3 separate regions of the Homo sapiens genome follow, and all the other regions are linked to region 1. Evidence: fine-mapped expression QTL. A gene starts in region 1. Each other region holds a variant in brackets. All regions are shown on one strand. Distances are from middle to middle. Region 1 holds the start of GLO1 (glyoxalase I). Region 2 overlaps DNAH8 (dynein axonemal heavy chain 8). Region 3 overlaps BTBD9 (BTB domain containing 9).

Region 1 (4,352 bases):
TAGGGTTGTTGTTAGGATTAAATTAAACAATGTACTTAAAATACCAAGCCAGGGCCTGGCACACTCAATATATACCAGCTATTATTATGTATTCCATTTTATGTCTCCCATGGCCAAAAATTACTGATCTCAAAATTAATTACTCCGAATCATCAAGAGAAATTTAGATACTGTGGAATGTAAATTAAGCTGCAAGGACATTTACTTAGTATATTTTATAAAGATATCCCTGGAATCCTTTTTATTTGAAAACCCCATTACATAAAACCCCTAGTTATCTGGGAAAATACTTTACACTGAGTGACTCAATTTACATTATATGAAAAAACCAGGTATTAATATTAAGGGATATACAAGTGAGATGGGCATGACGGAATTTTTTTACCTTCCCCCTTAATTTTGCAATGACTAACATTTTTCCTAAGCCAAGTACCAGGTGCTAGTCAAAAGTTTTAGCAATGAGATGTGTCTGACTCTTTGCCCTGAAGGTAAAGAACAAGCAGGGACCAGAGTCATGGACCACTTATCTACCCCTTTTAAAGGTCTGCACGAAGCACATATTCAATCTTCAAGGAATTTACAAATGATGTAGTCAAATAAATAAATACAAAGGTGTTTACAGACACTGATGACTTCACTGGAATAAACAGCGGTTACTGTGCCTGAATTTTTTTTTTTTTTTTTTTTTAGACAGAGTCTCACTCTGTCGCCCAGGCTGGAGTGCAGTGGCACGATCTCAGCTCACTGCAAGCTCCGCCTCCCGGGTTCATGCCATTCTCCTGCCTCAGCCTCCCGAGTAGCTGGGACTACAGGCACCCGCCACCACGCCCAGCTCATTTTTTTGTATTTTTAGTAGAGACGGGGTTTCACCGTGTTAGGATGGTCTCTACCTCTTGACCTCGTGATCCGCCCGCCTTGGCCTCCCAAAGTGCTGGGATTACAGGCGTGAGCCACCGCGCCCGCCAACTGTGTCTGATCTTAACAAGGCAACCGAAACACCACACCTGAGTGAGTTACACTGATTCTTACCCAGTAAAGACATGTTCGGTAAGTGAAAGCCTTTGTATGCAACAGGTCATTTCTCTTACTGGGTCATTACTGTAAAACGAGAGGGTAAGAGAAGGAATTTCTAAGATTCCTTTCAGATCCAAACTCTATGATTCTGTAATCTCTCCTGGGCCCCACGAAGATGAGGAAGGCAAGAAGGGCTGTTGTGACCCACAGCAAAGGCCAAGCAAGCAAAAGTGAAATTCTGGGCGCGGTTAAACTTAGAGCGATCAAATTAGTTTGCAGGAGTTAAGACTGCAGTCAGGGTGGTAAGGAAAAACGAGGCTGGGCAGGACTGGTACAGGACAGGCATCTTTGAACCTATTTCTGGGAGTTCTGAAACTACTGTTCTCGTGGGCCTTGGCGACTGATTTGGGAAAGCTGACCCTGGGTTGGCCTGGCTTCCAGCCACCGTCGCAACATAAACAAGCCAATTCAAAACAGGGTCGCAGTCTTTGAAACTAGCTGAGGCAACAGATCCCCTCCACACTTCGCGGGCCCCACGATCGCCCCATCAAACACCATTATCCCTCTTCCCATCACACTCCCGTCCGCCCGAGGCCGGCGGACCTGCAGCGGCGGCGGGATGGGGTTGGATAGAATGCGGCCCGGTCCCGGCCCAGCGGAGCTGGGGGAGCCGTTCCCTTCGGTCCTGTGCCCACCTTGGTACTGGGGTCCGCGTCGGAGCAGCAACTGAGGGCGGCCTCGTCCGTGAGGCCGCCGGACGGGGGCTGCGGTTCTGCCATGGCTGCGCTGCAGTATCACAGACGACGGGACCCAAGGAACGGAGGAGTCACCCACACTACGCCTCGGCCCTGTGCCGCCTTAACTAGGAATGGCGCGATGGCGCCGCGGGCGGGAGACCGCTGACTTCCAGCCAATCGCTGCGCGGAGAGCAAGTTGACTCTCTGCTGATTGGGTCCCAGTGAGTCAGCGCCTCCACCCACAGGACTATGCCTCAGACTACAACTCCCAAGGAGCCTTGCGCATAAAGGAGGCAAACTCATACAAAAAAAAAAAAAAAAATGCAGGCTGGGCAGAGTGGTTTCTCTGTTACTTAATGAGCTAATTTTGTTTGTTTAACTAAAGTTTGGTAACCATTCATACCTCAGGGCTGCAATTTGGTAGAAAATTGGAATCTGATGGAAACTGAAAACTGTAAGTTGTTCTTTTAAAATTGTAAGGATTCAGAGGTTTCTCAGTTTACGCAGCGCAGAGTAATTAAAACAATTGTTGAGTCGAAAACCTATGTTCAAGTCTTGGTTCCGCTATATATTAGCGCTAGAAACTTGCAATAATTACTGACCCTCTCTGAGCTTCCTAACAGGATTTGTTGAGAATTAAATAAGTTTTCTTTTCCTTTTTCTTTTTTCTTTTCTTTCTTTCTTTCTTTTTTTTTTTTTTTTAATTTTTTTAACAGTGTCTCGCTCTGTCGCCCAGGCTGGAGTGCAGTGGTGTGCTCTCAGCTTACTGCAGTCACTGCTGCCTCGACTTCCGGGGCTCTAGCTGTCCTCTGGCCTCAGCCTCCCGATTAGCTGAGACTACAGGCTGCAAAACCAAGACCAGTTAATTTTTGTATTTTTTTGAGATGGGGGTTTCACCATGTTGCCCAGGCTGGTCTCAACTCCTGGGCTGAAGTGACCCTCCCGCCTCAGCCTCCCAAAGTGCTGGGATTACAGGTGTAGCCACTGTGCCCAGCCTAAATGAGATTTAAGTCATGGTTTGCCTACTTAGGTTCCAAATGTCCATAACTTGCAGTACTTTTTACATTAATATATATTTTGTGTTCACTGGAAGGCTTAGTCATCACTGTGTCTTCAATGATTGGCTCATAATAGTAGATGCTCATTAAATACTTCCTGTTGTTAAAAGAATAAATGGGAATGACTGGTGCTCACCTAACCAAAATGAGGTTGGGCAGGGATGTATATGGCACTAGCCACCTGGCCACCACCAAGATGTCCCCGTCTCTCATCTCAGCTTTTTTCTGCATCGCAGCTTCAGTTTGTCAGACACCAGCTCCATAAGACTAGAAATTTGGCAGCTGTTCTCTCACTAGGAGTGGGAGTAAACTCTCCCTCTGGATTTTATCCAGCCAGCCTGGATTTTATCAAATTGGAAAATCCAAGAAGGAGCTGTGATTGGCCTGGCCTAGGACCTGTGCTTACTCCTGTGATTGAAGCACTGCGATTGGCAACCTGGATTAGGACCACCTGATTGGAGTTTGGGGAGGATCTGTTAGTTCCCTAAAAGAAGAGCGATGATGTTCTTATGAGAAGGGAGGATTGCCAGGCAAACTGAACCATGGATGTCCACTGCAAAATGATAGGCAGGATAAGGATTTCAGCAGAAATGTTGTGCATACCTCATACTAACTTACTGAGGATATTTCATCAAAACACAGTCTATTAGAACTGCAGGACTTCTATATGGAACTAGACCTTAAACCTTTTAAACTCGGGAATTGGAGCAATACACAAACTCTCCATATACTGTGTGTTACCACTGAATTATTGAAAAGACCCCCAAATTGTCTTCTTTTGCATTAATTTTCTTTTTTAGATGGAGTCTTCCTCTGTCGCCCAGGCTGGAATGCAGTGGTGTGATCTTGGCTCACTGCAACCTCCACCTCCTGGGTTCAAGCGATTCTCCTGCCTGAGCCTCCCAAGTAGCTGGGATTACAGGCACCTGCCACCATGCTGGCTAATTTTTGTATTTTTAGTAGAGACACGGTTTCACCATGTTGGCCAGGCTGGTCTCAAACTCCTGACCTCAGGTGATCCGCCCACCTCGGCCTCCCAAAGTGCTGGGATTACAGGCATGAGCCACTGTTCCCAGCCCTTTTGCACTAATCTTTCTGGTGAGCTTCTCAGACTATGTGAGATATAAAGCATGTAAATGAATAGGAAGACTCAATATCATAAAATATCAATTCATTTACTAATTAATCTGTTCATGTAATGAAATTCCAATAAAAATCCCAACAGAGTCCTTTCTTTCTTTCTTTCTTTCTTTCTTTCTTTCTTTCTTTCTTTCTTTCTTTCTTTCTTTCTTCTTTCTTTATTTGTTTCTTTCTTTATTTCTTTCTTTCTTTCTTCTTTCTTTCTTTTCTTTCTTCTTTCTTTCTTTCAAGATAGGGTCTCACTCTGTTGCCCAGTGTGGAGTGCAGTGGTGCTGTCTCAGCTCACTGCAGCCTCAACCTCTCAGGCTCCAGCAATCCACCCACCCACCCACCTCAGCCTCACAAATAGCTAAGACTATAGGCATGCACCACCAAAACCAGATAATTTATTTTATTTTAGTTT
Region 2 (4,000 bases), 56 kb after region 1:
TGATGAGCATTTTTTCATGTATCTTTTGGCTGCATAAATGTCTTCTTTTGAGAAGTGTCTGTTCATATCCTTTGCCCACTTTTTGATGGGGTTGTTTGTTTTTTTCTTGTAAATTTGTTTGAGTTCATTGTAGATTCTGGATATTAGCCCTTTGTCAGATGAGTAGATTGCAAAAATTTTCTCCCATTCTGTAGGTTGCCTGTTCACTCTGATGGTAGTTTCTTTTGCTGTGCAGAAGCTCTTTAGTTCAATTAGATCCCATTTGTCAATTTTGGCTTCTGTTGCCATTGCTTTTGGTGTTTTAGACATGAAGTCCTTGCCCATACCTATGCTCTGAATGGTATTGCCTAGGTTTTCTTCTAGGGTTTTTATGGTTTTAGGTCTAACATTTAAGTCTTTAATCCATCTTGAATTAATTTTTGTATAAGGTGTAAGGAAGGGATCCATTTTCAGCTTTCTACATATGGCTAGCCAGTTTTCCCAGTGCCATTTATTAAATAGGGAATCGTTTCCCCATTTCTTGTTTTTGTCAGGTTTGTCAAAGATCAGATAGTTGTAGATATGCGGCATTATTTCTGAGGGCTCTGTTCTGTTCCATTGGTCTATATCTCTGTTTTGGTGCCAGTACATGCTGTTTTGGTTACTGTAGCCTTGTAGTATAGTTTGAAGTCAGGTAGCGTGATGCCTCTAGCTTTGTTCTTTTGGCTTAGGATTGACTTGGCAATTTTTTGCCAGGGCTCTTTTTTGGTGCCATATGAACTTTAAAGTAGTTTTTTCCAATTCTATGAAGAAAGTCATAGGTAGCTTGATGGGGATGGCACTGAATCTATAAATTACCTTGGGCAGTATGGCCATTTTCACGATATTGATTCTTCCTACCCATGAGCATGGAATGTTCTTCCATTTGTTTATATCTTCTTTTATTTCCTTGAGCAGTGGTTTGTAGTTCTCCTCGAAGAGGTCCTTCACATCCCTTGTAAGTTGGATTCCTAGGTATTTTATTCTCTTTGAAGCAATTGTGAATGGGAGTTCACTCATGATTTGGCTCTCTGTTTGTCTGTTATTGGTGTATAAGAATGCTTGTGATTTTTGCACATTGATTTTGTATCCTGAGACTTTGCTGAAGTTGCTTATCAGCTTAAGGAGATTTTGGGCTGAGACGATGGGGTTTTCTAGATATACAATCATGTCATCTGCAAACAGGGACAATTTGACTTCCTCTTTTCCTAATTGAATGCCCTTTATTTCCTTCTCCTGCCCGATTGCCCTGGCCAGAACTTCCAACACTATGTTGAATAGGAGTGGTGAGAGAGGGCATCCCTGTCTTGTGCCAGTTTTCAAAGGGAATGCTTCCAGTTTTTGTCTATTCAGTATGATATTGGCTGTGGGTTTGTCATAAATAGCTCTTATTATTTTGAGATACATCCCATCAATACCTAATTTATTGAGAGTTTTTATCATGAAGGGTTGTTGAATTTTGTCAAAGGCCTTATCTGCATCTGTTGAGATAATCATGTGGTTTTTGTCTTTGGTTCTGTTTATATGCTGGATTATGTTTATTGATTTGTGTACGTTGAACCAGCCTTGCATCCCAGGGATGAAGCCCACTTGATCATGGTGGATAAGCTTTTTGATGTGCTGCTGGATTCGGTTTGCCAGTATTTTATTGAGGATTTTTGCATCCATGTTCATCAGGGATATTGGTCTT[T/A]TTTAAAATAATTTGAGAAATTACTCAAGCAACACATGAGACCAGGCATGGTGGTTCAGGCTGTAATCCCAGCGCTTTGGGAGGCTGAGGTGGGAGGATCGCTGGAGCTCACGAGTTTGAGACCAACCTGGGCAACATAGAGAGACCTTGGCTCTACAAAAAAAAATTTTTTTAAGTTAGCTGGGCATGGTGGTGTGTGCCTGTAGTCCTAGCTATTCCAGAGGCTGAGGCAGGAGGATCCCTTGAGCCTGGGAGTTCAAGAATGCAGTAAGCTGTGATAACACCATGGCACTCCAGCCTAGGCAAGAGAGAAAGACCCTGTCTCAAAAAACAAACAAACAAACAAACAAACAAACAAACCACCACCAACGAAAAAACCCACATGAATAGAATTTATTTGTAAATTATTCAAGCATAACGAAATATATAAAGTCATAGTCACATTTTAAGTTTTTTTAAAAAGCAAAGTATAGGCTTAATCACTATGTCCTAAATACGACAAGACTCTCAGAATCCTTCCTCTTTACCTGTCTCTCTCATTCTTGCCATATATGTCCCACATTGAGATCATTTTTAGTTCTGACAATGATTCTTTGCTTGGCTTCTGAATCTTCTGGTAGGCCCACCTTTGCACTTTCTAGTGAAATCTAGTTTGAGCAAAGAACCCTGCTAAGTCAGTTTAGCAAGAACCCCCCATTCTTGATATCTGATGACTCTAGATATCTGATCAGGTTTTCATTCCCCCCAACCCCCCAGGTGTTGTCTGATCACTTTGGCCTGTCTTCAGCAAGAATCCTGTTAGGTCAGTTTAACCAAAATCCCCCTTACCTCTGATGTTTCCTCTTAATAATTTTCCACCCACTGACTCCCATCCTGCCCCTTGGCTATACATTCCTGCTTGCCCATGCTGTGTTCAGAGTTGAGCCCAATCTCTCTTTCCTGCTACAAGATCCCATTGCAGTGGTCCCTATACCTATCACAATGGTCCTGAATAAAGTCTCTTGCTTTGCAAGTATCACTGAATAATTTTTTAACAGTTCCATATTATTCTTAACATTTTTTTCAACATTGTGAATCAACAAGTATTCAGACTAAAATCCAAGTATTGCTAATTTATTTATCACCACTGTTTTGTGATTCCCACATCTTTTTCCTTCTTGGATTCATTATTTCTTTTGCTGAAAAAATTCTTTCAGAGAGGTTTCAGGGTGGTGAACTTCCTGGATTTCTACATGTCTGAAAATCACTTTCATTTTGTCTGATCACTCAAATGCTAGTGTGACTTGGATTTTAAATTCGACATCATTGTCTCCTGGGAAGTTGAAGATATTGCTCAATCATTGTCTAGTATTCAGTATTGTTGAGGAGAAGCTTGGTGCTAATATGATTCTTGTTTCCTTTGTAGGTAACTAGTTTTATTCTCCCAGGAAGCTTTTAGGATTTTTTTTCTTTATCTTTGAATTTCTAAAATCTCAAACTTTTTTTTTTTACATTTATCTTGTTCTACACTTGCTGAGTTGTCTCAATCCAAAGACTTTCCTTTCTCTTTATTCCTGAGAAACAGTCCTCTTTTGCCTGGGATTATTTCTAGCTCACTGATATGGTTTGGATATTTGTCCCCTCCAAATCTCATGTTGAAATGTGATCCTCAGTGTTGGAGATGGGGCCTGGCAGGAAGTGTCTGGGCCATGGGGGTGGATCCCTCATGAATGGTTTGGTGCCCTCCTTGTGGTAATGACTTCATGCAACAGCTGATTGTTTAAAAGATCCTGGCATCTCTCTCTTGCTTGCTCTCATATGAGGCCAGTTCCCACTTTGCTTTCTACCATGATTGTAAGCTTCCTGGGGTCGTCATCAGAAGCAGATGCCGGTGCTATGCTTCGTGTACAGCCTACAGAGCTGTGAGCCAAATAAACCTCTTTTCTCTATAAATTACCCATTCTCAGGTATTCCTTGATAGCAATGTAAATGGACTAACACACCTACCCATTCAATTTATTCTCTCCCCTTGCATCTAACTTCCATTTCTCTTAATTTTTTTCTTCCATCTTTGCCCTTTTCTGGCTCACTCATTTGCTCTTCATTTTTTTTTTGGATTGTATTTTATTTATTTATTATTATTATTTTAAATTTTATTATTATTATACTTTCAGTTTTAGGGTACATGTGCACAATGTGCAGGTTTGTTACATATGTATACATGTGCCATGTTGGTGTGCTGCACCCATTAACTCGTCATTTAGCATTAGGTATATCTCCTAATGCTATCCCTCCCCCCTCCCCCCACCCCAC
Region 3 (4,352 bases), 88 kb before region 1:
AAAAATACAGCCCATATGGACACATGTATTACTCAATGACAGCATTTTGTGTATTTCCTGCACATTTTGTTTCAATATAAAAATGTCAGAGGGAGCCTGGGAATAAATGGTTAAGGGGTACTGACATTCCTGTAGCAATGTAAGGAACCTCAATCTGGACTCTGGGAGATGTGGGCCCTGACTTTCCTATCAGCAAATCAGCTGTCCTCTTTGGCTTTTGTTAATCTCATTTGTAAATGAGAAGACAGGGCTAAAAGTTCTCTGAAGTCCCTTCCAGCTATGAGTATTCTCTTCCTCTCCTTCCAAACAGCTATGTCAAGTCTCACCAGAACGCTTACCACCATAAAAACATCCAACTTAAGCAGACTTTGCTGGTGAGGAGCCCTCCTGCTTATTCACCTTGTTCACCAGTTAGTGAGAGCCAGGGATATGGAGCTGCTGGCTCTTCTGAGTTGTCAAGTCTCTCCTCTCATACCTCCAGCCTTTTACTATTGGAACTTCTTGTATTCTCCTTGTCTGGCTAATTCTGCCTCTTTCAAGGCTCAGAACAAGCTTCAAGCCCTTCAGCAGAAGCCTTCACTGACGCTGCCAATCTAGGTCACCTCTTCTGTCAGATTCTGTTCCCCCATCACCGCCCCTATCATACCTTGCTATGATTTTGTTACGGACCTGTCTTGTTGGTTAGTAAGCTCCCAGAGGACAATAACCAGAACACAGAGACTACAGGCACTCAACAAATGCTGAATAACATCTTACTCATCTTTACATCCCCAGCACCTTACAGTGACTGGCATATTTAAGACCCCAAAATTAACAAAAGAGGCCATACAGATATTAACAGACCTCTCTTCCAAATTCCAGACCCCTATATTACCACTGCCCACTTTACATTTGCACTTACTTTTCTCAAAGATACCTCAAAACTCAATTCACACTCTCTATGCCCCTCCCTAGTAAAAGCCTGTCCTTATGCAATGTTCCCTAGCTCAGTGAATCCGGCTGTGGAAGCCAGAAAGACACTGCCTTCGACCTCAACCTAATCCATCAGCAAGTCTTTTGTTTTTACCTCCTAAGATAGCTTTCAAGTCAATTTACTTCTTTGCAACTTCCATGCTACCATTCTAGTTCACTCCACCTTCATCTCTCACTCGGACCCTCACATAGTTCCTAAGTGATCTCCCGCTTTCCACTCAGACCTTCCTCCAAACTGTCCTCCATGCAGGAGCCAGAAAGAATTTCTCAAATTACAAAACTTGAGTATAAACCATTTCCCTCATCCTTTCCCTCCAGAACTCCTGTCCCTATTTAAAACCCTTCAGTGGTATTCCACGGCTCTTATCGTAAAAGAAGCACAGAAAAAAACGTTTAACTGGGCCTTCAAGGCCTGTGGAATCTGGGCCCTGCCTAACTCTAATCATTCCCCCTGACTTTCCCTAGCACTGACATGCTCCCTTATGCCACAGGGCTTTGGCATAAGTTGATCCCTTGTTGGGACCATGCTTCTTCTTTTCACCTTCCATCATCCAAGTGCAACTCAGGTGCCATTTCCTCATGCAGCCTTCCTTGACCTGGGTCTAGCCAGCGCTCTTGTCATCTGCACTTAGAAGGCTTTTCTTTTCCTTCACAAATTGTATCTCTTTGTATTTATACATTTCCACCCTTACATGCCATTTCTCCACATAAATCTTTTGAAAATATAAATCAGATCAGTCACTCCATTGCTTAAAACACTTCAGTGCCTTCCTATCTCATGCTGAATAAAAATCATACTCCACCAAGATCTACAGCTCTGCAACCCAACCACCTCCCCAAACTCATCTCCAACTCCTCTCCTGGCACATTCTGCTCCAGCCACACTGGCCTTACTGTTCCTTAAACACAGTCAAAGCTTATTACTGACTTAGGATCCTTATCATTACCTTCCCTCTACCAGAATGTTTTGTTCCCAAAGCTTCATACTACTGGCCACTCACCATTCAGGTCTTGGCTCCTAACCACCCTACATACCCTACTACCCCCTTCACTCCCATACCATTTCTAACCTTCTACTCCATTTGATTTTCTTCACTGCTCTTAGCCCTAGAAGATAACCTCCATGAGAGCATGGGTTCTGCCCTATTCACCTCAGTGCCTAGAAAAGTACCTGGCATAGAGGTACTCAATACCTGTGTGAATGCTTAAAGTAATTATTGCGGTCCTTTTTCAAATAACTGCACTTCACTGACAGTGAAGAGTTACACATATGAGGATGGGATAATGTTGGCTGTGGTAGGCAGAAATGTAAGATGGCACCCAAGATCCCTGCTCCCAGATACACACACCCATATAATCCCCTCCCCTTGAGAGTGGGCAGGACCTGGAAATATGATGGGATAGTTACTCCAGTAACTTTATATAAGAGTCTTGTAGCTGACTGGAGGGA[G/T]ATTCTCCAACTAGCCTTGAAGAAGCAAGCTGCCATGTTGTGAGAGGCCCATTGGCTAGGACTTGGGGGTGGCCTCTAGGAACTGAAAGCTACCTCTAGCTAACAGCCAGCAAGAAAAGGAGGATCTCAGTGGTATAATCACAAGAACCAAATTCTGCTACCAACCACTGAGCTTAATAGAGGACCCTGAGCCTCAGATGAGATTATAACCCTGCTGACACTTTGATTTCAGCATAGTAAGACCCTGAGCAGAGAAGCCAGTTGTGCCATGCTTGGACTTTTACTTATATAATGGCCATCAATACTATCAGACCCAACGCCTACTTTTTATAACAAATATTTTATTACAACGCCCTACTATTCTGAAATAAAATTCAGAGATATATAACCTACTAAACACTTTTTTTTAATGTATTAGCAAGCCAGGCACATGTCTAATAGTCCCAGCTACTCGGAAAGTTGAGGTGGGAGTGGGAGGTGAGGCCAGCTGGACTTCCTGGGTCGGATGGGGACTTGGGGAACTTTCCTGTCTTACAAGAGGATTGTAAATTGCACCAATCAGTGCTCTGTAAAATGCACGAATCAGCAGGATTCTAAAAGTAGCCAATCGCGGGGAGGACTGAAAAGAGCGCGCTTTGATAGGACAGAAACGAAACATGGGAGGGGACAATAAAGGAATAAAAGCTGGCCACCTCAGCCAGCAGCAGCAACCCGCTCAGGTCCCCTTCCACGCTGTGGAAGCTTTGTCCTTTTGCTCTTCACAATAAACCTTGCTACCGCTCATTCTTTGGGTCTGTGCCATCTTTAAGAGCTGTAACACCACAAAGGTCCGCAGCTTCATTATTGAAGTCAGTGAGACCAGGAACCCACCAGCAGGAACAAACTCCGGACACATCTTGGGGACTTGTCCAGGATATCGCTATGCGGTGAGTACTATCGGACCCCTTTCGCTTGCTATTCTGTCCTATTTTTCCTTAGAATTCAGGGGCTAAACACTGGGCACCTGTCAGCCAGTTAAAAGTGACTAGTGCGGCCACCGGACTAAAGACACGGGTGTCAGGCTTTCTAGGAAAGGGCTCTCTAACAACCCTTGCCTCTTCGGAGTCGGGAGCGTTGCTTTGCCTGGAACCAGCTTCTGCTTTTCCTGCACTTCCGGGCTGAGCCGAGGGTCAACAGAGAGGAAAGCCATTCGGCTCCAAAAAGTTGGTTGACCCTGCAGCCATGAGCAGAACTCTCAAGGTTACATCACCCAAGCGAGACTTGCCCATCTATTCTATCTATCCTGACCCTTGCCTCCTGGGTCCCAATGCCTCTCAGAGAAGTTCCTCCCACCTCTCTTCTCCAAGGCTAGTCCTGCTTCTCAAAACCACTCCCTGTCCCCGATGCTCTTCTAGTTTCTCCTATAAGGATAATTTGTAACATAAATTTCAGGACTCTGTTCCCTTCTTTAGGCACCCAGGCTTACCAATCAGAAAGACATAATTTTTGCCCAAAGCCCCGTCATAGGGGGTACTATCTGGAATTTTAGGATGCCTCCTCAGACTAGCAGGCCTAACAAAGGCCATTCCCAAAGCCAGGATATGGAGAGCCTCAGAAATTACAGACTCCAAAATTGGGGGGATGTCCTTCCTATTCAAATGATGAGAAGTGAGGACAAAAGACGTCACTGTTCCAATGCTGGAAATCCCTTCCCTCCCTCAGTGTATGGCCCTCCACTCCATTTTGAGGCATATCATCTTCATAGGACAAGGGTAAGGTCCCAGCACCAACAGGAGAAAACACTTAGGACTCTAACTAACAGGTTTTTGAGAATGCATCCGTAAGGGCTACTAAATCCAACCTTTCTCGGTCCTCTTTGTGGTCTAAGAGGAAAGGCAAGGGTGCAGGTTTTTGAGAATGTGGTGGTTAAGAGCCACTAAATCTGACCTTC

What was found. PIP is the estimated chance that this variant, and not a neighbour inherited with it, causes the effect. A credible set is the group of variants that fine-mapping cannot tell apart.
Region 2: its variant is the best candidate, but not a certain one, in a credible set for the expression of GLO1 in nasal epithelium (TOPMed, PIP 0.89).
Region 3: its variant is the best candidate, but not a certain one, in a credible set for the expression of GLO1 in whole blood (INTERVAL, PIP 0.61).

Annotation. Positions count from the first base shown.
Region 1 is chr6:38,701,262-38,705,613 of GRCh38, forward strand. It overlaps GLO1 (glyoxalase I), which reads right to left and starts at 1,884. Exons shown (of 6, transcript NM_006708.3): 1 at 1,710-1,884. The coding sequence starts at 1,793. RefSeq lists enhancers at 1,026-1,618, 1,651-1,700, 1,721-1,820, 2,001-2,160.
Region 2 is chr6:38,757,275-38,761,274 of GRCh38, forward strand. The region is part of intron 10 of DNAH8 (dynein axonemal heavy chain 8); the gene reads left to right. Among named protein-coding and RNA genes, the nearest start is that of DNAH8, 44 kb to the left of the region's middle. The variant T/A (reference allele first, on the strand shown) is at 1,709.
Region 3 is chr6:38,613,636-38,617,987 of GRCh38, forward strand. The region is part of intron 1 of BTBD9 (BTB domain containing 9); the gene reads right to left. Among named protein-coding and RNA genes, the nearest start is that of BTBD9, 24 kb to the right of the region's middle. The variant G/T (reference allele first, on the strand shown) is at 2,423.